Linked DNA regions of Homo sapiens: region 2 is linked to region 1. The links come from fine-mapping of genetic effects on gene expression. Tissue or cell type: whole blood. Region 1 holds a variant in brackets; the other region holds the start of a gene. Each region is shown on its reference strand, or each on the opposite one.

Region 1 (16,767 bases):
GAGCCTTCCCTGTTTATAAGATAATGTGCTTAAATCCCCAAGCTATACTTAAGATTTTAGAGAGGTTAGTTTTGGTTAGTAGTTCCATAAATTGAGAGTTAAGAAGATATGGTATCTCATGCAGATGAAAGATGAGTCTCCGCATAATACTAAAGGGGAAATTTTAGTGACAAACTGGCTAAGCCTGGTTCCTTCTTTTTTATAAGGCAACTACATATCATTACTTTTAATATTTATTTCCATAAAGAATCACTTTACTAAAATTTGTATTAGGTTTAAAAAGGGAGGTTTAAAGATTAAAATATCATCTTTAGCCAAACAGTATTAAGCAACTCGATTGTACTGCATTTATTAACCTCACCGTTTGAGCAGTCTGGGCCAGTCCAGTTAGGGTCACACGTGCAGGAGCCACTTTCTTGAAGATACGTTCCGTGGCCGGAGCACTGGTCTGGACACATGGTCTTCAGTATTTCACAATTGCTACCTCCCCATCCTGGACTGCAGTGACATTCCCCGTGGATACACACACCATGATTAGAACACCCAGGGTCTATACAGTCAGCTGGTGTAAAGAAAAGAACAATTTTATTAAATCCAGAAGATATCATAGTGCATGCAGAAAAAAGAATTAAATCCTAATCTAATTTATATGAACATTTTGGAAAATCAAATATTTATCTACCATTTTCAAGAACTTGTTTCTGAAAATGCAAAGAATTATAATACAATAAAGCATTAAGATCCAGCCTAATGCCATTTAGGTAATTGAGACTCTTGCAAGGATTTGTAATTTTCCTGAATTACACACACAGGCTCTTGAGGTTTCAGACTATTGCTCTCTGTTCTGCCTAATCACAGAGTAATAAGTATTGCCTTCTCTATAACAAAATCTGTGACCACTGAGTACTGACAGCTGTATGGGATCCTCACACTGTTTGAGAAATAAATGAGTTGCATACTCTCTATCCTTCTTAATTCACTTCAATGTGCTTTAGATGACGAGATTTAATTTAGCAATTTGACTCAATAAAACTTTACACTTGTAGGGTCAATGGCCTGAAAATTTAATTCCAGAGACTTAATTGCATTACTTTGTGTGTGCAGATCAATAAAATCAATTTGATTGAAGAATGGAAATGGTGCTTTTTTGCTTTCTGAAAAAACAATTCACCTGCACTTTACAGTATGGTATCTCGACTCTCATCATTATACGTATACAGCTATGGAACACATCCATGATGTCATACTTCTTTTAGGTAGCATATTATGTGTACTACTCTGTCTTTCTAGAGATGTCAAAATGCTAGATTTAGAAGCTGGCATCAATGTAAAAAACTATAAAAAGAAAAATAAAATCAACCGTCCGCTGTTAGTTTCAAGGCATAAAGGTTTGCTTGCTTTCTCAGAGTGAAGAAAAGGAATGATTCACAGTGCTGAAAAAGAGCAAAGGGGCCCTTTGGTGCTTGTTCTTTTTATTAGTTAAAATGTTAGTAAAACAATGCATTCATAAACATGGATTTTTCAAAATTGCTTTCAAAAGGAAGCGTATAAAAGAGATCTGCCCAACTAAAGATTACAGATACAATCTGTTTCTTTATGAAGATAACAACAGACTTCTGTGAATATTGACATGTTTACCTTCTTCACAACTTTCTCCTTTGTATCCTGAGTTGCAAGCACAAGAGCCCATGATACAAATCCCACGACCCCCACACTGTGGGTCAATACACTGGGTAGTCGGCACATCACACTCGGTGCCCTTCCAGCCGCTGAAACACAGGCAGCGGCCCTTGGAGTACTGCCCGTTGCCACTACATAACACTGGACAGGCGGCTGTGAAACAAGACACGACAGAAGAATTACAGCCACACTTTCCACCGAGCTTCCGAAAGAAAAGACACATCGCTGGAACAAGCAATATGCCAGTCTCCCCCCCCCTTTCTTTCCTGTCTCGGTAGTTTTTGGAATCACTTGTGTTTCTACAGCTTATTTATATCGGCTTAAGAGAAGAATCTAACTTGCATACCTCTTGAACAATCCGGACCCAGAAATCCTGGAAAACAATGGCAAGTTCCAGAAACGCATTCTCCATTTCCATGGCAATTTCGGGGACATTCCACCACAGACTCTGAAGAAAAAGGAAAGAAGGAACACTTGTTGTATAGCCTGCCTCTTGCAAAAGATAAACGGTATCACTTTGATCTTCATTTATGCTAGATAATTTGAGTAGTAAAGCAAAGCACTGTCACTTCAAATGCAGATTTTCAAAGTGTTTCATGACATATTCTCCTCTCCCAAGGTAATTCCAGAAAATATTTTCTCCCAGTGCTTCACAGTTTGTCACATATTCCCAAATAAAGGTTTAAAAATAATTCTCACATTTTACCTGGGCTTTAACACCCTAGGAATTACCCCAAATTGGTACAGATAATTTAGTTTTTATTAAACACGGCGTTTAGGCTATAGCCTGGAAAATGCTGCTTTGAAGACTATTCTTACCTATAACAATGGTATTAAAAGACACCTGCTCTGCATTTTTCCCATCATTATAAAAAGCCAGATGCCAGATTCCAGAATCCAAGTACTGGATAAAGCCGGCCTCATGAAGGCTGACGGATCTCGCCTGCCGCCCGGCTCTCTCCGTCTCAAGCAGGCTCCGCTGCTCTCTGGCAATCAGCCTGCTGCCATCCAGGAGCTCCACGAAGTCATACTGGGGGGAGGACGAGGAAAAATAGTCAGAAAGATAAAGGGTGGCTGCTTCTCTCTTTTTTTTTTTCTCTTCAATCTGTCTTCCTTTGCTCTAACAAATACAATGTTAGAAAGAAGTTCCTGACAGGTCCAAATGGTAGAAGTCTCCCATGCATAGCATTTACAAGGAGGACGCAAACTATTCGCCACACAGGGCTGGATTCAAACATCAGGGACCATTTTTTTCCCTTATTGGGCAATATGGTTTCCAAATTTATTTAATTCTACTGACTGATCAAAAGTTTGATGAGTTTAGGCAGTTTGGGGATACAAACATAAAATCTACATGAACTGACATTTCCAATCCAGCAGGCTTATTTTTAATGCATTAAATTCATAATTGATATATAATAGTCGTACGTATTTTGAGTGCCCTCCCGGCCTCTGGTATCCATCATTCTACTCTTTCTTTTTTTTAAATTTTATTTTAAGTTCTGGGGTACATGTGCAGAATGTGCTGGTTTGTTACATAGGTATACACGTGCCATGGTGGTTTGCTGCACCCATCAATCCATCATCTACATTAGGTATTTCTCCTAATGCTATCCCTCCCCTAGCCCCTGACACCCTGACAGGCCCTGGGGTGATGTTCCCCTCCCTGTGTCCATGTGTCCTCACTGTTCAACTCCCACTTATGAGTGAGAACATGCGGCGTTTGGTTTTCTGTTCTTGTGTTAGTTTGCTGAGAACCATCATTCTCCTCTTTCTGCTCATTCACTTTTTTAGCTCCCACATATAAGCAAGAACATGCAGTATTTGACTTTCTGTGCCTGGCTTATTTCACTTCACACAATGAGCTCCAGTTCCATCCATGTTGCCAGCAACCTTGTTTTAGTTAGACCACAAGATAACCCTGTACAGTCTTCTCTGATTTAACATTCATGTAGCAACAACTACTGTTGAATCCTTACTCCGTGCTGGTTCCTCATAGGAACCCTCGTAGGAAGGCTTTAACATTTGCACTTTACAGGTGAAGGAATCTGAATCTTGAGGAGGGTAGCAGGCTCTCAGACATCTGGTAATGGTGGGGTTGGCTTGTGAACTCAAGAGCACTTTGCTCCAAGTGGGGTCATTCCTCCCACCCTACTCCACCTCTCTTGTGACCCTGATGTGACCATCTCAAGCACCATGGAGAACGCCATGGGCTTTACTTAGTTATTGTTAGATTAGAAACATGTAACAAGATGCCTTTACATCTTTGATCTAAACAGTTAAACAATGGAGGGGTTCTGAAAGGATGGCAGTAACAGTAAACGTGCCTGATTATTCTTATGAATGGGTCATCATTAAACCTAAGTTTTGTTGTAGTAAAATTAGACATGAACATTGGTGACTGGAGAGTTTAAAAAAGAATTAAAAGTATAAAATGTGATTGTTAATATAGTGGGGTAAAATTTTGTAACTAGAAATAATACAGGGAATTTGAAAGACACTGAAAAGACTTTCCAATGTAGTTTCAAGGAGTTTTTTAGATTACAATTGTTAAAAGTAGAGTGATTCAGTGTCTATAGAATGTTACCTAGTTTCATTCTATTCCTGAAGTGTGTTTATGGTGAAACATATGCCATAGTACTATATATAAATAATTATTATTATACTACTGCATATATAAATCATAAATATTCTACTTTCTGATAGGTTTCTTAAATGGAATTTCATCAGAGGCCTATTTAAGAAAAAGATTATATGAATCTCTTAATCCAATCAAACTGGAATAAAATCAGTTGTTGGAATTTCTGAGAATCACAGTTAAATATATTGCCATTTTACTGACCATAGACCTCTACTGTTAATATTGGAGAGAACTTAGAGTATCTAATTCAGTTTCTGACTTACTAAAATTTTTATTTATAAGTAAAACCTTTTTTTGTTCTTTTGTGTAGTTTCATCAGAACAGAATTCAGCTGTGAGAAATATATAAAAACAGTATAACCTGATCAGCAGTCAAAAATGTTTATTTTCATTTATACCTTATAAGGATGAAAATACTGACTGGTGTGGATACATGACCTATAAAATTTGACTGGAATTCTATTCTAGAATTGTCAGAGGAAAATTAATTCAGCAGTTTTGAATGGTGACTCTGTCTCAAATAAGCCATTCATTTCCTCATCAGGTTTAAATATTTACACATTTGCATGGCAAAGAGACAAGAAAAAGTTTCTTTTTATGACCGAAGCATATAAACATTTTTCTTCCCTAACATTAAACACGGTAACTGAAAAAGTGAACGGGAGGAATTTTGAGTTTTAGCTGGTCTTTCAAGGCAAAAGCACAACCATCACCTTTATCATAGAAATAACCATTCGCATCACACTGTGAACAATAAAATAAGGCCAGGGTAGTGGGCATGATGGTGGGGAGGAGGAGCTGACAGGTTTTGAGTATCTACCCAGTTCTAGGCTCATCTGCAGAAGTGTTTCGCACATGAATTCAGGAGGGCGATTCAAATACCTAAAAAAAGTTCCCTACTTTAACACTAAAACCATCTTTGCCCAAAATTACCAAATTACAAGGAATAAAAATACTTAATAATCTTTGTTCTTAGGGCATAAAGTGGTCACTTAAGGGCAAATGTGAGTTTTGCTTTGTAATATTTCTAAGATGGAGATGCAGATATATTTTTGGGGAGAAGAGGAGTCTTAGGACCTTATGCTCTTTTTAGGAAGAAATTCTTGGGGCTAACTCTTCAATTGCACTAGTCCGCGGGAGCCATCGTGAGACAAAGCTTATACTTGATACAGGTTTCATATAAAGTGAGATAATTTTAGTGTGAAAGCTCCGTTTAAAGGTCATTTTCTTACGATTTAATATTACCAAATATACACGCTTTAAAAATCCTCATTTAAAGTTGCTTTAAACTACAATGTATTAATAAGCCGTCTTTTGGAAAATCAATAGAAGAAAAGTTTGCCCATGTTTGTTGTATTTATGCTGATTATCTAATAGACCATTTAAAAACAAATAGATTTTGTTTCAGTTATCTTGGTAGTTCACTTCTGAAGTTAGATTATATGTTTAATTCAATTCCGTTACTAAAACGATGAGTTCTTAGAATCTATGAATACTTAACTGTGTCCTTACATCAACTCTTTGGTAGTGGCACAGTCTTGCTGTAATTGGAATATAGAGACTAAAGAGATTTTACAGATCATCTGATCCAACTCTTTCATTTTACCAATGGACACTAAGGCTCAGAGAAGGGACTCTGCAAGGTCACACAGTGAAAAGGTGGTGAGGGTATGCTAGAACTCAGGCTTCCAACTCCTATTCGACAACAGCCTTCATGTGAATGCACTAAAATGCTACAGTATACTTCACCATAAGGCTCTGCATTGACTCCTGAGGCCACTAACTGACCAGGAGAATGAACTGGCATCAGGGAGAAGAGAGCCCACTGATTCCTTGGCAACAATCAAACGGGCAGTTTTACAAAGGGTCACAAAGACTGCGAAAGCTCAAGCAACTATTCTGAATGGCTGGCCAATTTTAATTATTTCAGGTTGATTTATTTAATGTTCTCCAGAAACAGAGAAATGTTCAATTTGGGCTGCCTTATACAATATTTCATGTTTAAACACTGAACTCAGAAACAGTTGTTTGCTCTGCTGATCTTGAATAAACCACAGGAAGAAACTATAATAACCGTGAAGCTTAAGAAAATGCATAACCTACTTAAACACATATATTGTGGTAGAAAAGAAAAGAGGATATCACATGTATTGTGTTTAAATACTAGAAGGATTATGAGAAAACCCGAAACTGCACCTTTCATTTCTCTAATCTTAAATGTTATATACAACTTGCAGTCAACTAAATCTTTAAATAAACCTTTCAAGTACACAACACAATAGACAATTCTTACCTGAAATTATTTTCTAGAATTTGTAAGTTACATGTTTACTATTGTGCTCAGCTTAGAGGTATATTTCTTGAATTATACACAAATAATCACATATGCGGTTTCAGTGGGAAAATATTTTTTCATATTTCACTGGACAATTGCTATAAATCCAATCTGTCTACTATAATTGAAGTTATAGAGGACTTCCACTTAAGAAAATCTGCTTTTTTTTTTTTTCTCCTAGACAGAGTTTTGCTCCTGTCGTCCAGGCTGGAGTGCAATGTCACGATCTCTCACTTACTGCAATCTTTGCCTCCAGGGTTCAAGCAATTCTCCTGCCTCAGCCTCCTGAGTAGCTGGGATTACAGGTGTGCGCTACCACGTTCGGCTAATTTTGTATTTTTAGTAGAGATGGGGTTTCACCATGTTGGTCAGGCCGGTCTTGAACTCCTGACCTTAAGTGATCCACCCACCTTGGCCTCCTGGTGCTGGGATTACAGGCCTAAGTCACTGTGCCTAGCCTTAAGAAAATCTGGTTATTATATCCTAGTCAGTGTCACCTATAAGATGAACTGGAGTCAAATCTAAACTTTAAAATGGTCTAGACTGGCTGGGTGCGGTGGCTCACGCCTGTAATCCCAGCACTTTGGGAGGCCGAGGAGGGCAGATCACCTGAGGTTGGGAGTTCGGGACCAGCCTGACCAACATGGAGAAAACCTATGTCTACTAAAAATACAAAATTAGCTGGGCATAGTGGTGCACGCCTGTAATCCCAGCTACTCAGGAGGCTGAGGCTGGAGAATCACTTGAACCCGGGAGGCGGAGGTTGTGGCGAGCCGAGATCATGCCATCGCACTCCAGCCTGGGCAACAAGAGCAAAACTCCATCTCAAACAATAAAATAAAATAAAATAGCCCAGACGCGGTGGCTCATGCCTGTAATCCCAGTCCTTTGGGAAGGTGGGCGGATTGCTTGAGCCCAGGAGTTCAAGAGCAGCCTGGGCAACATGGTGAAACCACATCTCTACAAAAAATACAAAAATTAGCCGGGGGCGGTGACACGCATCTGTAGTCCCAGCTACCCAGGAGGCTGGGGTGGAAGGATCACCTGAGCCGAGGAGGTTGAGGCTACAGTGAGGTAAGATTGTGCCATTGCACTCCAGCCTGGAAGACGGAGTGAGACCCTGTCTCAAACAAAAAACAAAACAAACAAAAACCAAAACCCCAACAAACAAACAAAAATATAAAATTTAAAATTGGGCATTAGTACATTATAAGAAGTATACAATGCATAAGGATCAAATTTACTTTAATAATATAGATATTAAAAATATTAAATAGGAAAAATGAATACACTAAAGCCTGATATTCAGAAATTTCACAGCCATAAAATTAATATATGTATATGAACTAAATCCACAATTACATTAGAAAAAGCATGTTGAAATCTTCTTACTCATCTTCCTTTAAAGATATAATTTCTTTATTAATATGTGATAACTTTTCTTCATAATTTATGTTCCTAGGTTATAGAAAAAATATTTCTCACAAAATTATATGATATAAAGCATACATGAAAACTCTCCAGCCCTTATTTTATAAGTCACACTAAATCAGCATGAAATTCTCTAGGTAAATAAACTGATTATTGAATATAACTTTAGGCTCATCCTACTGTCAATTTTAATGAATCAACTCTTACATTTTTGATATTCCTCTATGTACTAACGTAATAGTTGATCTTGGGGAAAGTCTCAGTTCCAATTTTATGGTAGGTAATTTAAATAACTTCTCTTAGAGATGATGAAACCTATATTAAGCGACAATTTCCAGTTTACATACTATGACCCGGTACTGTATTAGATTATGAAAAAGGCTGTGGAATTGCCAGCAGTTCTCCATCTGTGATTGCTGTTGTGAGGGGATTTTTATGCAAGGGAAACGACTTTAAAGTTCTTTGATATTAAGGATATGTGAATTGTCTTGTGTACCACACTGACATGATCATACTTGGTTATCTCTGAAAGCTCTCTTGCCTCTTCATCTCAGCGTTGATCATTTTAGATGAGGCACGGCGCCTGAGTTGATAAAGCTCATGTCATCATATTTATGTTGATGTTCCCATCATTTCTCTACTAAGAGGAAATCTGGCATAAACTAAAAAAATACATTTTCAACAGAATGAATACGTGTTAGAGATGAATATGTTATGCATCTATTACATGAAAGGAATAAGATCATCGGAAATTATCATAGAATCTTTGTAAAACACTTGGAAAATCCATGGTGTTTTACTGGGTGCTCAGATGATGCTCAATATTCATTAAGTTCCTCACAAAATTCAGTACATTTTAAACAGTCAAATCAGGAAGAAAATATTGTTCTTCCCACTACTGATTCAAAAACCTCAGAACAAGTAATCTACATTCAAAACTCTTTCTACTGTAGAAAGTCGATTCAAAAGTCGTCAAACAGTTAACCAAACAGCTGAGCTTAAGAAAGAGAATAATTTCAAAAAATGCAACTGGCAGTTTTTATTTTATTGATAAGAAAGCCTAGTCTTACCTGAGTATGGGAAGGCGGTAAGCCTTTCCGGCCATATACTCCAATCAATGCATCCTTCTGAAGAGAGATATTGAATTTAAGAAACTGTGGCTGATCAATGAAGAGCTGTGATCTCCAGAAGATCCCGGGAGGAATCTCTTGAATTGCTCTTCGGCCAATATCAAGTTCTCCGGAATCTATGGTGTTATTTTCTTGCGTAAATCCACCTAATTTTCCTGAATGTAAGAGATGCACTGATGAAGAACAAATTTTTTTTAAAAAAACAAAACAAAAAAGGTTTTTAAACTTTTTGAAAAAGTTATTTTTACCAAATGCTCAAGCCATTTCATCTTCTGATATATTACTTTCATAAAATTTGCACTTTAAAAGCTTCTACTATTAGATACTGGTGTTTTACTAATTCTGATTTAGCTCGTAAGATATTTAAGTTAAAATCCTTTTGACTTCCCCCAAGGTATGCCCATTACTAAAGCTGTTTTCACACCTACAGTCTTTCTGTTCACTTGAAACATAATTATCTTACAAATTATGAGTCTTGTTATTTCTTGGGAGAGATTAGGGTCTGGTACTTATCAGTCATTCTAAACATACTATAACACTGCAAAGTGTAAATTAAGGCAGAATGGATTATGGAGATTTCTAAATCAATCCTTAAGCAAACAATAAAACCAACTGATGGCTCGGATTCATGTGGTTCTATCTAAATGATATACTAGGATGAATGAAAAACATCAGATGTTGGCAGAGAGATAGAGAAGGGGTACTTGGGGCATTGTGAGGGGAAAGGAAGGAGGGGTAAGCTTAAGTGCTCACATAGCTTTTGTGTAGGCTGTTATAACTTTTCCTCTTTCTTTTGAGCCTCATTTCAAACTCACTTGTAGTCTTAGTGGACATACTGTGTTACTTCTGACCACACTGATCTTTGATGCATAGGAACAAAACCTCTTTTCTCCCTGGATCTCTGCCACCTGTTAAGAGACACCATCTCTTCTCTTCCTGCATGGCCTCCTTCTAGAAAACAGATCCAAGACTCCTCTTTTTGGTACGATGTTCCTCTTTTCCCTCTTTGCCAAGGTTCTTTCTCAGTTATTCTGATGGGGGTCATGGTAGAATTTCTGCAATTTGCCGTGAGTGGAAATATAACTACATTGTCTCTTATGCAGACGGGTCCAGAAGGCTGAGGAACAGAATGGAACTGGGCAAATTATCTTCTATCAATTCAGCCCTTTTACACTGATAACAACA[A/G]GAGGGTGAGGAGTGAGGATCACTTGAGCGCAGGAGTTAAAGTCCAGCCTGGGCAACACAGTGAGACCTCGTCTCTTAAAAAAAAACTGATAACAAAGTTGACTTACTACCAACTTTGTCTTTTTTAAAAAAAATATTAAACTGTTAATTCAAAACGCAGAGGAAGTGATTTTAAGTCTGAGCTGTAAGCTATCTCATCTCAGTGATAAGGGAGACAGGCTTCTAACTATCTGTGAAGAGTTATTAGTTTAACTCTGAGTTCATTTTTACTGAGTGTCTGCTAGCGGCAGCACTGTAGGTGACTTAAAAAAAGAAATATAAACCAAAGAGTAGAATCTTAGAGATTATCTAGACTTCCATAGCTTCTGCTATCAAGTAGTAATTACCTGGGTGGGGAGACAACACCCACAAACTGATAAATTAAGTGAGACCCTAAAGCAACATATGAGTAGGGGTCAGAGAAAGGCACTATCACTGCAGGCTGGAGGTTGAGAGATTTCACAGGAGTTAAGTTTGGTGGTAAACATTGAGGAACAGGTAGGATAAGGTTTCTGAGCTGGGATAAACATCGCTATCACAAGCATGGCCGTGGAACTTGACAGGTGTTAGGTTGAGGCTCAGCAGAGAAATCCATCTGGCCAGAAAACAAGATAAAGAAAACCCGTTTTGGAGTCAGACAAACCTGGGTTTGAATCCTGGCTCTGCCAACAATTAGCTGTGTGACCTTAAGGAAGATACTAAACCTCATTTAGAAAATGGGGAGAGTAACATAATGATTGCACCGTTACAAGGATTCCATGAGGTTTGGTGCATCAAGGGCAAGCTGCAGCGTCTGGCTCTCAGGAGGTACTGAATGGGTTTGTCGTGGGAGGGATGCGGGATAAGGTTGGGAAGGGACGTGGCATCTGTCTGTGGAGGGCCTTGAATACCAGGTTAAAGAATATGGTCTTTATACTTTATGCTAGTGATTTCTTGTATTTTCACTCTATCAAGAGTGTTATTACACCCTTTTCCCTGAAGATGTATATATTTACTAGTATTCTGTTACTGTGCATGTCATTTATGGTATGTTTTTCAAACAGATACTTGAAGACTGATTATGGGTAAATTGCATTTCGATGCCTCAAACACACTTATTCTTGTGTGGTGGTGGGGTGTGTGTATATAATCAAGAGAAACAGAATTGAAGATTACTACGGAACATGACCTGCAATCACAGACCCAGTTTATGGCCTATAGGATCTGAAGCAATTCACAAAAAATTCACACTTACAGATAAATGTGAGGTTTGAGGGAGAGTACATCACTAGCAAATGTTAGAATTGCTTTCCATCTGGACTACTGCATCCTACATGACACACGTACCATCAGTTGTGAAGGACAGCTATAACTAAATGGAGACCCATTAAAGGTTCTGAGCGGGCTAGAGGTGAAATGAAATCACTGTTTCAAGAGCATTACTGTGCAGTAACTGTGGGAAGCCTGGACATGAAGAGATGAGTGAGGACACAGCTGCAATAACCCAGGTATGAGGCAGAAGAGGGTTGTACTAGAAAACTCAATAAAAAGGCATTATTTATAATCTCCCTTCCTCTCTTCTTTCCCAGTGTTCACAATCATGGTAGCTATCAGGTCTATTTTTCTTGAACCAATTCAGTAATATAAAAGGATCTAAGGAATAAAATTTCCAAATTGAGTTATAGTAATCACTATAATTTTTCCACACATCAACTCTTAGATTATAAACTGTAGATCATTCATAGGATTCAAAGTATTTATTTTACAATAGTAATACTTGTTCATTTCAGCAAAATTAGAACATACAGTTAAATAAAGAGAGAAAAAATATGTATAATGCTACCACCCAGAGATTATTTTGCTTTCTAGCTAAACAGACGTCTTGCTTTACTCAGAAATTTTTAATTATCTGAGACCAATTTCTACTTTTCATTTAGGAAGCTTCTGCAAAGGAACCTACATTTGTCATGAAGGAGCTTTTACTGAGAAGATTCAGGGGAGAGAGAAATGGAACTAATCTTCACTGAGAACCTACAATATGACAGGTAGTTTCACCCAAGAGGTTGGTATCATTTTGAGATGAGGAAACTAAGGCTCAGAGAAGTAAATGATGTGGCCAAAGTCAGTGATGGCATCAAGACTGAAATCAAGGTCTGCAGAATTCCAAAACCATCTGTTGTATATAATCCTCAATAAAATCTTTGCTTTTTATTAAAACAAAAATATTATTTTAAATTACTAAGTTTTAAATTTGTCTATTTCATATAAAATCAGATATATTAAGTCACTGAACCACCCTAGAGAATATACTTACAATGTCAGGACATAAAGTTTATACTTATTTTTATAAGTTTTATATTGATAAAACTTAAAAAACTGACATGGAAGGCCGGGTGTGGTGGCTCACGCCTGTAATCCTAGCAATTTGGGAGGCTGAGGAGGGCGGATCACGAGGTCAGGAGATTGAGACCATCCTGGATAACACAGTGAAACCCCGTCTCTACTAAGAATACAAAAAAATTAGCCCGGTGTGGTGGCGGGCGCCTGTAGTCCCAGCTACTCGGGAGGCTGAGGCAGGAGAATGGCGTGAACCTGGGAGGCGGAGCTTGCAGTGAGCCGAGATCGCGCCACTGCACTCCAGCCTGGGCAACAGAGTGAGACTCCATCTCACAAAAACAAAAACAAAAAAAACGTGACATGGATATTATAATATAATACTCTTTATGTTATAATTCATAAGTTCCTCATAAGTTTTTGTCTTTTGGTTGACTTCTACATGAAACTAATTTTAAAGTACTGAGTAGAGTAGCTGTTCTCTTCCCCTCTAAGATGTCAGTATACATATCATATTTTAATATGAACATAGTTTATATGTAGACTCATTCATCAAGTTCATACATTTCTAAGGCTATGATACTTGATTGTCATTAACAAGTTTCATCTACTATCCGAAGCATATGTAATTTAATCTACTCTCTTGGGTTGACCCTATTGCTGCTATTAATGGTTTTCTGAGTTTTAATAGCATACCTGTGCTTTGAGAACTGGTAAACATAAATTCATAAACTGGTGCCAATTTCAGAATTTTTTTCCAAAACATTATGTTTACCCAAGAGGATTAGCTGTGGTAATGGTAACCAAGTTCTGATTTCTAGGGTTTCCGGTTTCACTATGTCAAAGGCATTTAATAAGCTAGGTATTCTTGCCTTGTTTCTTTCTCCACAAATTAATTTTGAGGGGTTAAAATCTTTCTCACAGAAATGATATGTGAATACATCGTTGTGTCGCGAAGTATATCTATTTATCCTGTTAGTCCCATATATAGGTAATTTAACCAGTGGTTCTTTTCCAGAAAAAGAGGGTTCTTCATTTGTAAAACAAAAGATCCAAGATTGGTGGAGTGTGCTTGAATGGGATAGCAATTGTGATGATTTTTTTCCTCCCGTAACGAAAAAATACCTAATTAATCATAACACCACAGAATCTTCGAGTTCTAGTACCCGTGGGGGTCATCTAGTCCAGGGGTCTTTAAAAAAGGGTAGCCATATCCCTAGGAAACATTAAAACTTTTCAATAAGGAACGGGGTAGGAGATTAATTTCTATTAATAGACCCTCAATAACATTCATGTGTTGACTTTCTTTACAAAAGAAAGGCGTACCTCTCACATACCCAAATATTACTATGACTTATTGTCTTGGAGCATAAAACTTCCAGTATGCCAAAAAAAGGCAAAATTAAAAGTATTGTGGTGGTGAAGCCTCTTTTATTGAAGACACCATAAACCCAAGGTAGGGCTTCAGCGACTTTCCCTGCTTAACATAGTTCCATTAAGGGCAAAATGTGGGGTTAACAATGGGGTATTTAGGACTACTAGCATGCTTTGAAGTCAAATACATCAAGAAAGAGAGATAACCTTTTTAATGAACTTATCACTCACCCCAACTACTGTCAAAGAATGCTTTTCTTTTTAATTAATTAATTAATTAATTAATGTATTTATGTATTTATTATACTTTAAGTTCTAGGGTACACGTGCAAAACGTGCAGGTTTGTTACATATGTATACATGCGCCATATTGGTGTGCTGCACCCATTAACTCATCATTTACATTAGGTATATCTCCTAATGCTATCCCTCCCCACTCCCCCCACCCCATGATAGGCCCCGGTGTGTGACCCCGGTGTGTGATGTTCCCCTTCCTGTGTCCAAGTGTTCTACAAAGAATGCTTTTCAACTGCAGAAGAATTTCATGACTACCAAGAACACAGCAATAAGGTAAGAAACATGAAATGTAATGATGCTTTATTTATTCCCGTTGTCAAGGTTAGGACAAGGATTTGTGCTTTATCTTGCTACCTCTCTACCTAGAGCAGGGATTCAGAACTGAGAGGTTCTAACAAAATGTAGATTAATTTATTCGAACTGAAAAAATAAGTCAGACTTTTTCTGACAAAAGGTAAATTTGGGCCAGGTGTGGTGGCTCACACCTGTAATCCCAGCACTTTGGGAGACTGAGGCAGGTGGATCACAAGGTCAGGAGTTCGAGACCAGCCCGGCCAAGATGGTGAAATCCTGTCTCTACTAAAAATACAAAAATTAGCTGGGTGTGGTGGCGGGCGCCTGTAATCCCAGCTACTTGGGAGGCTGAGGCAGGAGAATCACTTGAACCTGGGAGGTGGAGGTTACAATGAGCCGAGATCACACCACTGCACTCTAGCCTGGGCAACAGAGCAAGACTCCATCTCAAAACAAAACAAAACAAAACAAAACAAAACAAAAAAATGGTAACTTTGATTTCAATGAGTACTGGCTCTGACAGTTAAATTATATGGTGGCTATTTCCCATAAATTAAATGAGCTAATGAAATAGACACATTTAAAGCATATACAGGCATACCTATTGCACATTTTGTTCCAGACCACCACAATAAAGCAGATATCACAATAAAGTGAGGTACACACATTTTTTGGTTTACCAGTGCATATAAAAGTTATGTTTACACTATACTGCAGTCTACTAAGTGTGCAATAGCATTATTTCCTTTTTTTTTTGAGACAGGGTCTCAAAAGCTGTCACCCAGGCTGGAGTGCAGTGGCCCAATCTCGGCTCACTGCAGCCTCAATCTCCCTGGGCTCAGGTGATCCTCCTACCTCAGCTTCCCAAGTGCCTGGGACTACAGGTGCACACCACCGAGTCTGGCTAATTTTTTGGTATTTTTTGTAGAGACAGGGTTTCAACATGTCGTCTAGGCTGGTCTAAAACTCTTGGACTCAAGCGATCCACCAGCCTCGGCCACCCAAAGTGCTGGGATTGCAGGCATGAGCCACTGTGCCCAGCCAATAGGTTTCTACAAACCAACGTACAAACTTAATTTAAAAAATTTTATTGCTAAAAAATGCTACCGATCATCTGATCAAGTCATCATCTTTTTGCTGGTGGAGGATCTTACCTCAGTGTAGGCGGCAGCTGATTGATCAAGGTGGTGGTTGCTGAAGGTTGGAGTGTCTGTGGCAATTTCTTAAAATAAGACAATAATTAAGTTTGCCACATTGATTGACTCTTTTCATGAAAGGTTTCTCTGAAGGATGGGATGCTATTTGATATCTTTTTACCCACAGTAGAACATCTTTCAGAATCGGAGTCAACCCTCTCAAACCTTGCCACTGCTTTATCTACTAAGTTTATGATAGTCTAAATCCTTTGTTGTTATTTCAACAATGTTCATAGCTTCTTCATCAGGAGTAAATTCCATCTCAAATACCCACTTTCTTTGCTCATCCATAAGAACAACTCCTCGTCCATTAAAGTTTCATGATGAGATTGCAGCAATTGTCACATCTTCAGGCTCTACTTCTAATTCTAGTTTTCTTGCTATTTCCACCAGATCTGCAGTTACTTCCGCCATTGAAGTGTGAACCCTCAAAGTCATCTATGAATGTTGGAATTAAGTTCCAAACTCTTGCTAATGTTAGTCTTTTGACCTCTTCCCATGAATCATAAATGTTCTTAATAGCATCTAGAATGCTAAATCCTTTCCAGAAGGTGTTATTTTTTTTTGAGACAGAGTCTCTGTCTGTCGCCCAGGCTGGAGTGCAGTGGCGCCATCTTGGCTCACTGCAACCTCCGCCTCCCGGGTTCATGCCATTCTCCTGCCTCAGCCTCCTGAGTAGCTGGGACTACAGGTGCCCGCCACCATGTCCGGCTAAATTTTTTGTATTTTTTGTAGAGACGGGGTTTCACCCTGTTAACCAGGATGGTCTCGATCTCCTGACCTCGTGATCCGCCCGCCTCAGCCTCCCAATGTGCTGGGATTACAGGTGTGAGCCACCGTGCCCAGCCTCCAG
Region 2 (16,767 bases), not on the chromosome of region 1:
AGTTGCAAGCAGTCTACAAATTAGCTCAGAAACCTAAAACTGTCTAACAAGGGATTACTCCCACCCTTCCAGGTGACAGTTTTTTTGTTGTTTTTTGTTTTTGAGATGGTGTCTTGCTCTGTCGCCAGGCTGGAGTTCAGTGGCACGATCTCGGCTCACTGCAATCTCCATCTCCTGGGTTCAAGCAATATTCTCCTGCCTCAGCCTCTCGAGTAGCTGGGATTACAGGTACGCGCCATCACACCCAGATAATTTTTGTATTTTTAGTAGAGACGGGGTTTCACCATGTTAGCCAGGCTGGTCTCGAGCTCCTGACCTCGTGATGCCCGCCTCGGCCTCCCAAAGTGCTGGGATTACAGGCATGCGCCACCGCGCCCGGCCCAGGTTACAGTTCTTAATCAGGTCCCAAGTATCAGCCTGTGCCAAATCAGACTCAAAATAAAGTCAGCAATGAAATGCTAAAGATCAAAATGAAGAATGAGCGCAGTGACTGTCACAAAGCCATCTAAAACACAAAGAAATAGGACCTAATTGGGTACATCTCTACTCCATTCACTCCTACCCTCACTGAAGGAACATCAAGTTCAAAAGTATCCCAACTTCAGACTGTAATTAAAATGCAAGAAAGGCCTTTACAAGTATCTCTTCTAACTATAGACATGGTAGTTTAAACCCATTTTTAGTCAACCAAAATATAACATTCTGGTGTACTATCAGAGTACTTTTTTTTGTTTGTTTGTTTGAGATGGAGACATGCTCTGTTGCCCAGGCTGGAGTGCAGTGGCGCGATCTCGGCTCACTGCAACCTCCGCCTCCTTGGTTCAAACAATTCTCCTGCCTCAGCCTCCCAAGTAGCTGGGATTACAGGCGCCCACCACCACGCCTGGCTAATTTTTTGTGTTTTTAGTGGAGATGAGGTTTTGCCACTTTGGCCAGGCTGGTCTCGAACTCCTGACCTCAGTTGATCCATCCGCCTCAGTCTCCCAAAGTGCTGGGATTACAGGCACGAGCCACCACGCCTGGCCTTATTGTATTATTTTTAAGGTAATATATGTCTACGGTGTTAAAAAAAAAAAAAAAAGCAGTACAGAAATCTATAAAACAGTTTAAAATCTCCCCTCCTTCTCACCCCAAAAGTGTCTTGTACTCCAAGATGACCATTAAGTCATCCTGAGTGTCCTTCCAAACTCTGTCAGAGAATTTAAATTGACCCATGAACACTCATTTAAGAATCTCAAGTTAAGAACTCATAACAAGGTAAATATTACTACAAAATGAAATCAAAGAAGGACAGAACACACAGCAGATCATCCTTTGAACATCTGCTAAAAGCTAAAATGTGATTTTTTTTTTTTTTTTTTGAGATGAAGTCTCGCTCTGTCGCCCAGGCTGGAGTGCAGTGGCACCATCTCAGCTCACTGCAACCTCTGCCTCCCAGGTTCAAGCAATTCTCCTGTCTCAGCCTCCCAAGTAGCTGGGACTACAGGTGCACGCCACCACGCCCGGCTAATTTTTATATTTTTAGTAGAGACGTGGTTTCACCATATTGGTCAGGCTGGTCTCAAACTCCTGACCTCAAGTGATCCGCCCACCTCAGCCTCCCAAAGTGCTGGGACTACAGGTGTGAGCCACCACACCCAGCCTTAAAATGTGATTTTTAAATCATGTTTTCCTAAACAAAATTATAAGATGCCTTGCTAACATCTAAATCAAGAAATACCATCTCCAAGAAACACAATCAACAAACAATCCCCATCTTTAAGAGCCATTCTAACTTGTGAATTGTTAAATTTACCTTTCTCATAAACTTTCAGAATATTTCACATTTTTCTTCTCCCAAAGATGGTCCTGTGTTAGTCACCCTTAAACTTATCTCACCCCTCTTAAAGAATTTAAGTTCAACACGGGCAAGAAATATCTATGCTATCTTCATACTATCTACATAGAAGGCTTGCACATAGTGTACATTAATATACTGTTTTAATTTACTGTCACGATAATTTACAAACCAATGTGGAAAACTGATAAAATTATATGTGAAGTTTCAATATGAGTACTTAAGACTGTCAATTATGCATTCATTAAATAAACTTTATTAATTAACTAATCTACAAATAATACATGTGAGTCCTAAACAGCCTAACCACCATTTCAATTCTTAGACAAGCTGGTAGTGTTTTCTTAACATAAATTAGCTCTCTAGATAACACATTTCAAAAATATTATTAATAATGCAGTGTTAGCAGTCATTAACATCAATTTCAAAGAGTTCAACGCATCACAATGAATTTCAAAGTAAAAATAAACTTAACAGAAATCCTTTCAAAGATGCAGAATATTGGTACTATGTAAACAAAAACTAAATGTTACATAATTTAAGTCAGAAAAAGACTTACTCTGCAGCTAGCCAAGCAATGAACTTTCATTTTGGTTTAAAGTGCATGACCTATCACTTCACCTAAGTCACAAAAATTCATCTCTCAGGCAGTTTTTCTTAACAGCTTAAGATATTGGCCAGGTGCGGCGGCTCACACCTGCAAAGCCAGCACTTTAGGAGGCCATGGTGGGCTGATCACGTGAGGTCAGGAGTTTGAGACCAGTCTGGCCAACACGGTGAAACCCCACCTCTAATAAAAACACAAAAATTAGCCGGGTGTGGTGGCAGGCACCTGTAATCCCAGCTACGCAAGAGGCTGAGGCATAAGAATCACTTGAACCTGGAAGACCGAGGTTGCAGTGAGCCGAGATCACTCTACTGCACTCCAGCCTGGGGGATAGTGTGAGACTGTCTCAAATTAAAAAAAAAAACAAAAAGTATCTAGAGGTGGCAGTCAAATGCTCTCTAGTTATTTCAATTTGTAATTGATTCGACAGAAAGAACTATTTACTGAAAAAGAAAACCAGAACTTTAAAAGTGCCTGTTTATGTATTGCTGCAGTTCTAATTTGTGACCAAATATGCAAATATGTTCTATAATCTTAGTATATCTTTATTACCAGGCACAAATCAAAACTTTAGGAAATACCAAGTATATAAGACTTTGTCCACGTAAAAAATTAAGACTGCAAGTGTTCAGAAGACAATCTTCCAAACTAGAAAACTCTTTAAAACACAAAGCATGACATTATTTCCATGGCTACTTTCTTTTTTTGTTTGTTTTTGTTTTTTGAGACAGGCTCTCATGACTTTTCTAACCAAAACACTAGCCATCTTTAGCACTGGAAATGAATTTACAGGTTGAGCATCCCTAATCTGAAAATCCAAAATCTAAAACTTTTTGGGTACCAACATGACACTCAAAGGAAATGCTCATTGGAGCATTTTGGAATTCAGATTTTCAGATTAGGGATGCTCAACTGGTATGTATTCTGCAAATATTCTGAAACCCAAAAAAATCCCAAATCCAAAACACATCTGGTTCCAAGCATTTTGGATAAAGGATACTCAACCTGTATGCCTTTAAGTGCCAGCAAACAAAAAACACACATAAATGAGAATGTTTTTAATCAACATCCAAATATTACAATTTAAAAAAGCCACCTCTAGAACTGACCTAATAATTTCCCCTACCAAACACGCCAGCAAACCAAATTTAAGAAAATATGTTTCAATGGATCTTAAACTACTTCTATTATCAAAAAAATTTAAAACACCAACTGTTTTAATGCTAATATGTCCTACGGAAAAAAGCACATACATTTTTAAGTGATATACAATCTATAACTTCTAAGTATTTTGTATAATCTTTCTACTAATAGAATTACCAAAAAAATTTCCAATAAGAGTATTTAAGAAAAACTTAAAAATAAGATACTTTGTTCAAAACTGTGTATTTTAGCAATAGTTCCCTGACGCAGATAAGATTCCCCAGTCCCCTAGCATTATTACTATAACTATACTTGGTAGTACTACTATATTTAAACTTACTACATTTATGGTATATATTCGTATATATTCTACTTTAACTCAAATCCTTACCCTACTTAAAAAAAAAAAAACCCAAAAGGTTTTCAAAAATGTACTAAAAAAGTCACAAGTTAATTTCTGTTAAAATATTTTGCTTAGTTTTCGATAACTCCACTGAAATTTTAAAAATAAGAATCTTGAATTATTACATTACCAGAAGATTAAGGGTCAGCATTCAAGAGCACTGTTCAAGATCACCCTATATCACAAGAACTCTAATTACGCAGGCTCTAGCTGTTTACAACCTTAAAGACATTACCAAAAAATAATACATTGTATTAACTACCTTATTTTTTTAATCCAAAACCCCAGGCATTGTATATCAAATGGCCATCCTACAAACAAAAAATTCTTTCAATGACTCTAATATAACTGAATCTGACAAAAACATTCGGGAGACGATGAGAAATCAGTGGTTTGAATAAACTGCACACCTGGAAAAGGAATACACATATAGATATGTACATACGTATACATACGCATATGCATATATATACATATATGTGTATACGCATATACATACGTATGTATATACATGTATATATGTATACACGTATACGTGTGTATATACGTATGCGTATACGTGTATATACGTATTCATATACGTGCGTATATACGTATACGTGTGTATATGCGTATATGTATATGTGTGTATACGTATATGTATACGTGTGTATATATGTATATGTACACGTGTGTATATATGTATACGTACATATGTTAAGGGACAAGTAAGAGACATATTTAATGCTTTCAACTTTCTAAAGCTTTTAGGTCAAGAGTTTTTTTTAACATACAAATGTGAATTTTAAAAACTTGAAAGAAAATCCAATAATATACATAGGAATAAGAATTTTTGAAAACAAGTAGTAATAGCTAAATTTCTGCCAGAAAGGAAAACGTTATACAAAGTGCAGACTAAATTGGGGCCGGGGGGTTGGGGGTGGGGGGGCATGGCAGGACAAAAATCAAAGCTAAAAAGGGAATTCTGGGAGTTATTCAATTCCATTATCTGCCCTCAGGTAAGTAGCCTAAACCTGCCCAGTAAAGGAAAGCCAACTCTTAAGACTTTCAGGGAATAAGAATTCTGAAACCAACATAGCTCAACATTCCACAAAAAATAAAAATAAAAAACAAAAAAATACTGCTTCGAGGACTGTTAAAAGAAGGATGAAACTAAATAATTCAAGACTTCCTACAGCAGGACTCCAGCTCATTCACTTCATTCAGAACCCAATTCAAACAGAGGGTGCGAAGTTATATAATGTCAGGCTTTACATTACACACCCCACTGGTATGTTCAGGCTCACAAAGATGCAACCAAGAACTATATGCGGTTGCAAGCACATATTACAGAAGGTTTTATTTTAATGTTAAGGCTGATGAATCTTGTCCTAAGCAGGTAGGACACCTCACAAGCACTGAGTCTGAAGCAGTGAAGATTTTTTTTTCTTTAGTTTAACAAACTGCTTAATCGTTCATCAAATTACCCCATATATCATGAAGGCCCCAAACATAGTGAAGCTTCACTAGTTTTTCATTTTTAAGATGTATTCAAACATCAAGTAATGCACAACTTGCCAAGAATATTTGAAAATGGTTACTTTTTTAAAATTTAAACTCGTTAGTGCATAACTGCAGGGTTTAATATTACAATCCGAAATCCAATGTTAAGCACTATTCGCAGTGAATCTATATGAATATGAGCATTCTAAGACATAAAATCAACTAGCATTTTACACATTCTCAACATAAAACATCAGATTCCATTTATTTTTTCATCACCATAACCAAAAGCAATCGATTTGGCCAAACTTTTCCACGTGAATTATCTTTGCAAGCAATTTTATTAACCCATGTTAGACCAACAATAATCCCTCCAAAACAAAATAATGCTCTTTTAATTTAAATCATGTTTAATCTTTTATAATGACAACTTTGACAGCAGTCAAATATTTTTAAATAAAATACTTTAAATACTCAAATTGGAAAAAAAAAAAAAAACTTTAAGGCAGGAGACCAACAATTACTGACGCTTAAATCTTTCCAGAGCTAGTCACTGTTCATTTTTACAGCAATAATTGTAATGAAGCCAATTAATACCTACGTAGTCAAAGTTTAATTCAAGTTTTCTGTATCGGTCAAAGGGGCCGGGCTTACTGAAAAGCATTATTTCCATTTAGTTTTCTGATTATATGCAATATAACACCTTATAATTACTTTGAAATAAAAACAAATGTGTAATTACAGATAAAAAGGAATTGATGACTCTGCGAAACCAAGCTACAGACAAAAATTCAGAACAACAAAAAAATCAACTTAAGAATAAAATGTTAGACTTATTTCAAACTTGCGTCTCAACTGCAACAATAAAGCTAGGTGTCAAATGCAAAGCTATGATTTCAGCTAGAAAAGAAAATGTCTAACGGATACAACACCCATAGCACACACTCCAACTTTCACGGTCCCAATTACGAAGAAAGTATTCAAATACCATTGCAATCAGATTTTGGTCAGGAAATATAAACTGATGCATACAGATTGAGACTCCAGCCTTTGTTCAATAGCTTACAGATGGATAACTAAATGTGCTACAGGTTGATAAGCATTTACCAGGCTTATGCATGCTGCTTCCAAGCTTATGAAAGGTATAAGAATTCTATATGCAAATAATCTTGGGTAATTTTTTTTAAACACCACTGAGCTACACACTCCGAAGGAAAGGCTTATTCACGGCTACTATTTATTTCCATGTTTACCTCTACACCCTCCCCCTAACCCCCCCCTTCACTTTCTCCTCCCACCCTGTCCCGCCATCTTGGGCCGATAGGAGCAGCCATTACTTAACTAAATGACAGTGCCAACAACTTTCCACACAAATAAAAAAAGACTACACCCCGAATCCTCCCCAGCCTCCCCTGTCAGACACACAGGAAATGAGGCTCCAGGAAGAGAACACGTTTACAAATAACTACGGTATTTCTATGCCAAAAAGACCCAAAAAGTAAACAAGTCACCTAACTTCAGGTAACACACACTGCAATCGAGATACATGTCAACAGCCCAATGCAAACTCTTCACCGACCTAAACTCCGTGAAACTTCCCCCTTCTGGGAGCGGGGACACAAGAAAGCCTAAAACATTTGGTTAGCAGTAGGCATCACGAACAGCCTGCTTGAAGGAAAAGAATTTTTTTAAACCCGTAGAGGCAAGTTAAGTCCGAAATTTGGGAAAATCTGAACACACTCACGATCCCTTGACCCTAAACAGGCACCTCGAAGATCATCGGCCTACCCTCAAAAAGCTGTAAAATAGCAGGCAGTTGTGTCGACCCAGTTGAGCCCGGCCCCAAAGCGATCCCGTCTCTGTTCCTCCAGCTACAAGAGGAAAAGAGCGATTTCGCAAGGGAGCAAGCAGGGTACCCGGGGGTGGGGGGAGAGCAGAGGCAGGAAATAGTTTCCGGAAGCCCCTCGACCATCGTCCGTGGCCACAATGAGCACAGACCCGGCCGCGGGGCCCGGGGCGAGCGCGGCGCCGGCCAGGGAGACGGTGTCCGCGCTCCGACTCGCAGCTGCCTTACCTTGCCCAGTAGGGCCTTCGTCCTGGCGCCATCTTCATGAAATCTCACGAACCCAAAGAGGCGGCTGTGGAGACAGACACAGTTTACTCGTTAACGCTCAGGGAACGCCACCGACCCGTCCCTGCCCGAGCCCGAGGCCCCAGCGGAGGCGGCGCGAAGAGCGCCAAACCGAGGTGCCCGCCCCGCCGCCGCCAGAGACAAGCCGCGCTCGGTCCTCCCGGGAGAGCGGCTACTGCCCGTCCGGAGCCGACCGGGCGAGTGACGGCGGCCCGTACCTGTCCAGTCCGCCGAGCGCCTCCCTCTCCTCGGCTGTCAGGCTGGGGGACGCCTCCTCGCTCTCGCCGCTCGCTTTTCCCGCCGCCATTTTCTTTTCCTCATCACCGAAAGCGGCGGCGGCAGCGGCGGCGGTAGCGAGCGACACTCCGCAGGATTTCATGGAAACGCAGCGAATTCACAACTCCAACGCCGACACCCCCCCTCGGACCGGGGCCCGCAGTGACGCCCCCAATCTGCGCGCGGGACCAGCACACCAACTTTATCGCCGCCTCCTCCTCCGCCGCGGGCGGCGGCGACGAAAAATCCCAACGCGGCGGCGGTGAAGGCGGCGGCGGCGGCGGCAGGGGCTGCGGAGCCCCCGGGTCGGCAGCGGCGGCTTTCGGCTGTAGGGTCACATCGCGGGGTTGGGCAGGGGGCAGCCACAGGCGGGGACGGCGGGAACGGCCGGAGCGCGCGGGGCTGGGGAGCACTGAGGGGATTCGTTGGAGACACAAACTTCCCCGGCACCAGCACAAAGTTGTTGTAATTGTGTCACACAGCGAACCCCACGCCGCCGCCGTGACCCCCCCTCCCCGCCCGGCTGGCGCCACCAATCGGCGCGGCCCGCACGCCTCACGTGACCTTTGTTGACTCACGTCAGCCGTGGCTCCACTTAACTTGCTAGCTGCCCGAGCCCCGCCCACCGAGGCCGCCACCGAGATGGGAGCGGGACGCAGGCCAATTCTAGCCGGTGGTTGGCTGCTGGGCGCGTCTGTCGGGGGAAGGGTTGTCACCGAGAGGGAGCTTCCTGTTAGGTTGTGCTGGTTAAATACACTGGGGCAGAGAATGGAGGGTCCGGGCCGTGTCACCTCGGGAACCGCGGCGGGCTCTGGAGGGGGAGGGGAGTGGTGGGGAAGGGCGAGGTCCGGCACCGCCCGCGGCGGGCGCGAGCGGCGGGCGAAGACGCCAAGGACGGCATTTGCCTGCCCGCGAGCTCTGGGATGTGCCCAGACCGCGGCTCCGGCCGTCCCGCGCGCGCTCCAGGGGTCCCGGGACCCCACAGGGCCTGGTACAGGTCGCGTAGCCGGGAGGCGGCGCACGGCCCTCGACCTCTGCCCTCCGAAGAAGGCTCAGACTTTTGGCACTGCTGGAAATAATGGCCTCCGCGAGGAGGGCGCTCGGGGAGCGGCTGCCGGTCCCGTGCCCCGCGGTCCGGGTGCCGCCCTAGGCCAGACCTGCGCTGGCAGCCCCGATCACCTCACCCGCGCCGAAAGTGAAGGGGGAAGGGCTCCCCTGACCCCCGCCCATACGCCCCAGGCCGGAGGGAATGAAGAGTCGCCCGCGGGGCCTGGCTTGCCGACCATGGCTCCCCACCGCCAAAGGTCTGTCTGTTGGCGGCACTTTGGGGCCAGATTTTCGTGCTGTGTTTACCCTGTGTCTTATCAGTAGTTCATTACAGTCTTACAAGAAAAAGCAATGAGAAATTGTGAAGCGGGATCTGCAGAATGTTGGGTTCTATTGCCATGATTTCAGTGGAGCCTTCTTACAAAAGTAGGGGCTGCTTGTGGACAGACCTGAGAGAAGACATAATTAAATCATCACAGCTGGTGGCCCAAGAAATCCTTTCTATCCCCCAAAACCTGCAGGTTTGTAACCCCTAGACAACAGTAACATTTTGTTGTTCTGTCTCTCAGGTGCAGGGGAAAGGCTTTAGTCTGACTTTTAATCTTTACTATAGGTGAAAAAAAAATAGGCCTTTCGACTACTCTTCTCAAAAGGCAAATTTATTTACTAAGCTGTATGTCTTATAACAGGGATAGGAAAAAATTGATAGACATATAAGGACAAGATTCTGTTTATAAACGGAGTTTTTTATATTTTCAATAGGTTTTCCACCTGTAACCAATAAAAATTATATATTTAAACTTGGATTTCAAAATATGACGAAGACAATTCAGTGCTGACCCAGTAATTCCTACCAGTATTCAGCGGGAAGCTATGGGAATCCCAACTGATTTTGCACACAGTTTTAAATTGTTCCCCTGAGACTAGTAACTAGACGAACAAACTGTAGTTTTGTATAGATTATAGTTCATGTTTAATTACTTCCTCTGAAACACCTTTCCCTTTATGATACTCCATTTTGCTTGAATGAGTGTGTACAAAGGGCCAAATCTTTTCTACGGCTAAATTAATACATTGTTAACTTTGTCACAAATGGTGACATTTAAAGCCAAGGAAATTTTGACCCCAGTAACTCGCTCGCACACTCTCTCATACACACACACACACACACACACATACACACACACTTGCACAAGCACAGATAGACATTTTGCTGGTATTTGACTATCTCCCTGAAGTTAGCAGTTCCTGACTCAGGTCCTTTTCAAGGATTATAAGGCTACTCAATCCCGGCCGGGCTCTGTGGCTCACGCCTGCAAAGGGAGGCCGAGGCGGGCGGATCACGAGGTCAGGAGTTGGAGAGCAGCCTGGCCAATGTGGTGAAACCCCACCTCTACTAAAAATACAAAAAACAAAATTAGTCGAGCATGTGGCGCTCGCCTGTAGTCCCAGCTACTCGGGAGACTGAGGCAGAAGAATCGCTTGAACCCGGGAGGTGGAGGTTGCAGTGAGCCATGATTGCACCTCTGCACTCCAACCTGGGGACAGAGTGAGGCTCTGTCTCAAAAAAAAAAAAAAAAAAAAAGGCAGCCAGGCGCTTTGGCTCACGCCTGTAATCCCAGCACTTTGGGAGGCCGAGGCAGGTGGATCACGAGGTCGGGAGATGGAGACCACGGTGAAACCCCGTCTCTACTAAAAATACAAAAAATTAGCCGGGCGTGGTAGTGGGCGCCTGTAGTCCCAGCTACTCGGGAGGCTGAGGCAGGAGAATGGCGCGGAGCTTGCAGTGAGCCGAGATCGCGCCACTGCACTCCAGCCTGGGTGACAGAGCGAGACTCCGTCTCAGAAAAAAAAGGCTACCCACTCTCCACACCTCAACACTTTTCTTCCCGCTATTACTATGTAATAGCAGAACAGCAAGGAGTGGATGCAATGGGTGGGAGTTGGAGTGAGGCAGACCTGGATTCGAATCCTTGCTCTACACAGGCTGTGCGACCTTGAGAACATTACCTATCCTCTAGGCCAGTGCTCTATGTCTATTACAACTACAAGGATCTATCATCAAGCATGGGACAAATTTCATATGGTAACATAAGTCCTTACATCATACACATGTTACATAGTGTGTTATCTGTCAAATGTATGTAAAATAGATATAGAGCCTATAAGGTTTACATATTTCACTGGAGAGAGAAATAGGGACATACAATAAATGATTTTATAATAAATTTCCATGAAAAGTGAATCTGAAAACCCCACCGGAAGGCAGAGTAGTGCAGCCAAAGGAGCATGAATTGTGGAATCATACAGCTCTAGGTTCAGATCCTACCTTTACCACTTGATAGCTAGGCAGACTTCAACAAGTTAGTCTAATTTGAGCTTCAGTTCTCTCATCTGTGAAAAAGAGAAAATACAGCCACTTTATAACATTATTTTAGATGCCATAAGGTAGGTAAAGTGCCAGACACATAGATTCAAAAATCTCAATAAAATAGGAAGGCTGGAATTTCCAAAATTTTTTCTTGCTTTCACAATCTGGGTTCTAAATTTATTATTACTCTACCCATCACTTCCTCCTTCTCCCTCCACAACCTCACTATAAGCCCAACACATAAGCAGTCCTAAGTACTTTATACTTGAGGCATATAACCCCAGTATTGCTACATCTCTCATTTATTCTAAACTTCGGCCTTATAAGCCGGGTGCGGTGGCTCACGCCTGTAATATCAGCACTTTGGGAGGCTGAGGTGGGCAGATCACCTGAGGTCAGTAGCTCCAGACCAGCCTGGCCAACATGGTGAAACCCTATCTCTACTAAAAAAATGCAAAACTTAGCCAAGCATGGTGGCACATGCCTGTAATCCCAGCTACTTGGGAGGCTCACGCAGGAGAATCGCTTGAACCTGGGAAGCAGAGGTTGCAGTGAGCCAAGATCATGCCATTGTACTCCAGCCTCGGCAACAGAGCAAGACTCCATCTCAGAAAAAAAAAGAAAATAGAACATTCATCCTTATATCACTTAGTACTGATTCTTTTTCATAATTCTAAATACACCAGGAGCTGGGGAAAGTTTAATCTGAATTTAGCAAATTAATACGACTAATATATGTATAGATAAATCAATATTATAAAATTATATAAAATCTAGCTAAGTCAGATTACAGACTAAGTACATAATTTGTAGCAATATTATGTTAATATTTATGTAAGTACCATCAACTAATTAGAGAAGGAACCCATTTAAGTATAGGAAAATAATGTGACTTTCTTTTAAACAACGAAATATTTAACCTGAAGCACTTAGGAATATTTAGTGTGTTTATAATGTTAGTGCCATATAACCTTTACAGATAATAAAAAGTCACATAACAGAGTCATAGTTTATCTAGTCTTATCAATAGAACTATACGTAAATGTTACGATCAAACATAGGTTCAAAAAAATTTACCAGTTCTTCCCATACTTACCACTGTCATAGAGACTATCCAGCTGATGCCAGAACACAAAAATGACAGAAATAGATATATGGTTAGGTTTGAGCAGAGACAGGGAGCCAAGGATAAATGGACTTTCAGTTGTTATGAAAACTTCAGTTGTGAGAATAGAGTTAGGACTGCTAGAAGATGCCTGGACTCCTACCTTCACCAGGCTGTAATGAGGCACCTCACATCCCACCCCCGCCAACACACACACACAACTGCACTAGGCAGCCTGGACTTCCACCCAGCAGTTGTGAGGGGTCAGTACCCATCCCTGCTGAATTAATGTCAGAGTCGTCAAAACTTTCATCACTGCCCAGTGGTATACTACCACCCCCCCCATTGTATCAGTGGAGGGGGAGCAATGTAGGGAACAATAATGAGGGACTCCTATACTGCCCAGCTAGGGTGAATGGAGGCCTCAATCTAGGCCTGGTAGGGAGCGAGAACTCCCATCCCCACAAAGCAGTAACAAGGAGACATTGCACTCATTGTCAACCAAGATTGAGGGGGAAAGCTGGACTTCCACCCACACCTGGCAGTAACAAGAGAATGCCCCCTTTGCCCCCACTAGAGCAATGTCAGAGGAGGCCTGCTAAAATACAAGATTTAAATAAGATCTAGAGTCTTGGCCGGGCGCAGTGGCTCATGCCTGTAATCCCAGCACTTTGGGAGGCGAAGGCGGGTGGATCAGCTGAGGTCAGGAGGTGGAGTCCAGCCTGACCAACATGACAAAACCTCATCTCTACTGAATACAAAAAAAATTAGCTGGGCATGGTGGCACATGCCTATAATCCCAGCTACTTGGGAGGCTGAGGCAGGAGAATTGCTTGAACCCCGGAGGCGGAGGTTGCAGTGAGCCAAGACTGTGCCATTGCACTCCAGCCTGGGCAACAGAGTGAAGCTCTGTCTCAAAAAAAAAAAAAAAAAAAAAAAATCTAGAGTCTCAGAACACTGCCCAAAATATCCAGGTTTCAATAAAAAAATTACTCATCATAGCAAGACCCAGGATAATTTCAAATGAGAAAAGGTCAACAGATGCAAACACTAAAGTGAATCACATGTTTAAATTATCTAACAAGGGCTAGGCATGGAGGCTCACGCCTGTAATCCCAGCAATTTGGGAGGCCAGGCAGAAGGATCACCCGAGGTCAGGAGATTGAGACCAGCCTGGCCAACATGGTAAATCCCTGTCTCTACTAAAAATACAAAAATTAGCTGCGCATGATAGCGCACTCCTGTAATCCCAGCTACTACTTGGGAGGCTGAGGCAGGAGAATTGCTTAAATCTGGGAGGCGGAGGTTGCAGTGAGCCAAGATCGCGCCATTGCACTCCAGCCTAGACTACAGATTGAGATTCTGTCTCAAAAAAAAAATAAAATAAAATAAAAATAATAGCAAACAAACAACTAAAAAACTAGAAGGCCTCAGAAGAGCAAGAAGAAGTTTCAGAAAAAAAAAAAAAGACACAAAGTATTGTTGAGCAAGTGGCATCTGTGGCCCTATTGTCAGGAGGAGATGTCCAAGCACTTCTGCCCACTGCATCTTGGTACCAGGATCTCCAAGGAAAATACAATTCAGTCAAGCCCCGGGTAGAATAACTTTACTCACATAGAGAAGACACACAGCAAGATCGGCTTCAGTAGTGGACATTAGTTCTCCCTGGCCAACAGGTCCCTCCAACAGCCAACACACTCCTCTTGTGCTGCAGCAGAAAGATCTCATCCTCTCCCTGCAGTGGACAGATATACTAGTGGTGTGGCCCAGATGCCACGTGACACATATATTTAAGCAGAACAAAGGAGCACACATTGAGTCTGAAACAAAGACAGATATTCCCACACAAGGTAACAAGTCTAGTACAGGCTGTGAGAACTCTCCATCCCTTGGTAAGGAAGTGTTCCAGGCTCAAGGCCTATTCTCATGTGGCTGATAGGGGAGCAAAAGACTGCACCCATGGAATCAAACGAAAATTTTAGAACAAAAAAACAGAATGATCAAAATAAACTTCACATATGGGCTCAATAGCAGAATGGTGGGAACAGAGGAAAGAATCCATGAACCTCAAGACAGAACAATAGGAAATACCTGGCTGGGCAGGGTGGCTCACACCTATAAACCCAGCACTCTGGGAGGCCAAGGCGGGTAGATCACCTGAGGTCAGGAGTTCAAGACTAGCCTGGCCAACATAGTGAAACCCCATCTCTACTAAAAATACAAAAATTAGCCGGGCATGGTGGCACCTACCTGTAATCCCAGCTACTCAGGAGACTGCCGCAGGAGAATCGCTTGAACCCGGGAGGCAGAGGTTGCAGTGAGTTGAGATTGGGCCATTGCACTCCAGCCTGGGTGACAGTGAGAACCTGTCTCAAAAAAAAAGAAAAAAAAAAAAAAAGGACATACCCAATCTGAACAACAGAGAGAGAATAGACTGAAAAATAAATAAATAAATAGAGCCTCAAGGATCTGTGGCACTGTAACAAAAGACACAACACTTATGTCATCAAGTCACAGAAGGAGAGGAGAAATGGAGAAATTAGGCATAGCCAAAAAAAGTACGTCAAGAAATAATAGCTGAAAATGTCCAAAATTCACATCATCCTTGTAATTAAGCTACTCTTTCTTGGAGAGTTGTATAAACAAATTCTATACTATAATCCAGAGTGATGAGTGCCATGACCTATGCCCAAATTTCTGTGGGAGCACACAGAAGAGGCATCTTTGTCAGCCTAGAGGGACCAGGGAAGTATCCTAGAGATTAGAAGATAGGCCAGGCGCAGTGGCTCACGCCTATAATCCCAGCACTTTGGAAGGCTGAGGCTGGTGGGTCACCTGAGGTCAGGAGTTTGAGACTGGCCTGGCCAACATGGTGAAACCCCGTTTCTACTAAAAATACAAAAAAATTACAAAATAAAAAAAAATAAATAAAAATACAAAAAAATACAAAAATTAGCCAGGCATGGTGGCGGGCGCCAGCTGCTCGGGAGGTGGAGGCAGGAGAATCGCTTGAACCCGGGAGGCAGAGGTTGCAGTGAGCCGAGATCACGTCATTGCACTCCAGCCTGGTTGACGAGAGCGAGACTCCGTCTCAAAAAAATAAAAAATAAAAAAAAAGATAGATTGGTAGGAGCTGGAAAGTGAGTATAGGGAGGTTTATATTCCAGGCAGAGGCAGCAACATACCTGCAAGCACACAGAAGGCTAAGAATATGGGAGTTCTGATAAATTCAAGAAGTTGAGTGTGGTTGCGGCCAAGAGGATAAGGGAAAAATCAGGAGTTGAGGCTGAAAAATTAGGCAGCACCATGAAGAGTCTAGAATGGAATGCTAAAGAATCATGCGAAAGTTTACAGTGGACTATTAAAAGATTTTAGAGAGAGAAATAATAATTGTAGGGTTGCTCTTGGTGTTAGTGCTGTTGCTGTAAACAGATTTGCTTTCACCTGGGCTCTGCACTTGGCACCAAGTTTAGTGAATACTGGCTAACTGGCTGGCAGCCTGACCCTTTTGCTAGACCAAGCGTCAGAAAACTATACTCTATAGGTCAAATCCAGCCCACTACCTGTTTTCATATAGCCATTTTATCTCAGATGAAAACTACATGAAATTCAGTTTTTGGTCTCCATATAAAAAAGGTTTCATTGAAACACAGTCATGCTTATTCAACTATTATCTATGGCTGCTTTCGTGCAACAGTATAGAATGGAATAGTTGCAACAGAAAATGTACATGGCACTCACATCATTTTGCCCTGCCGCTGGGTTCCCTACAAATCACAACGATACTGTTACAACTTGGCAGTGTTTCCAGTGCCTTACATACAACACTGAGACTTTTTAAAATTACCAGTGCAGGCCAGGCACAGTGGCTCATGCCTGTAACCCCAGCACTTTGGGAGGCCGAGGCAGGCGGATCACAAGGTCAGGAGATGGACAACATCTTGGCCAATATGGTGAAACCCTGTCTCTACTAAAAATACAAAAATTAGCCAGGTGTAGTGGCACGCTCCTGTAGTGCCAGCTACTCTGGAGGCTGAGGCAGGAGAATCACTTGAACCCGGGAGGCAGAGGTTGCAGTCAGCCGAGATTGTGCCACTGCACTCCAGCCTGGGCAACAAGAGCAAAACTCTGTCTCAATAAATAAATAAATAAATAAATAAATAATTGGTGCATACTTATCATGTTAAAACAAGAAAAGAGAGAAATATGGACTTCAGATGTCATGCCTTTAACGATTATTTTGTTATTAAATTTCATGGCAAAGCATTTATTATGCCATAACACTATAGCTTTGCTAAAAGAATACAATATATGTCAACATTATTAAACTAAGCACTCATCATAATATTCCCAACTGACAGAACA

Evidence for each region. PIP is the estimated chance that this variant, and not a neighbour inherited with it, causes the effect. A credible set is the group of variants that fine-mapping cannot tell apart.
Region 2: KDM6A starts here. The variant in region 1 is the best candidate, but not a certain one, in a credible set for the expression of KDM6A in whole blood (TOPMed, PIP 0.88).

The regions. Positions count from the first base shown.
Region 1 is chr4:182,665,609-182,682,375 of GRCh38, reverse strand. TENM3 (teneurin transmembrane protein 3) reads right to left here. Exons shown (of 28, transcript NM_001080477.4): 7 at 9,157-9,371; 8 at 2,500-2,710; 9 at 2,027-2,128; 10 at 1,639-1,833; 11 at 362-562. Among named protein-coding and RNA genes, the nearest start is that of DCTD, 240 kb to the left of the region's middle. The variant A/G (reference allele first, on the strand shown) is at 10,402.
Region 2 is chrX:44,864,767-44,881,533 of GRCh38, reverse strand. KDM6A (lysine demethylase 6A) reads right to left here and starts at 8,346. Exons shown (of 30, transcript NM_001291415.2): 1 at 7,822-8,346; 2 at 7,547-7,610. The coding sequence starts at 7,982. It overlaps LOC105373190 (a long non-coding RNA gene), which reads right to left and starts at 14,671. Exons shown (of 3, transcript XR_949040.2): 1 at 14,653-14,671; 2 at 14,017-14,137; 3 at 11,231-11,320. RefSeq lists silencers at 7,347-7,446, 7,457-7,536, 7,577-7,836, 8,177-8,406, 8,657-9,156 and 1 more.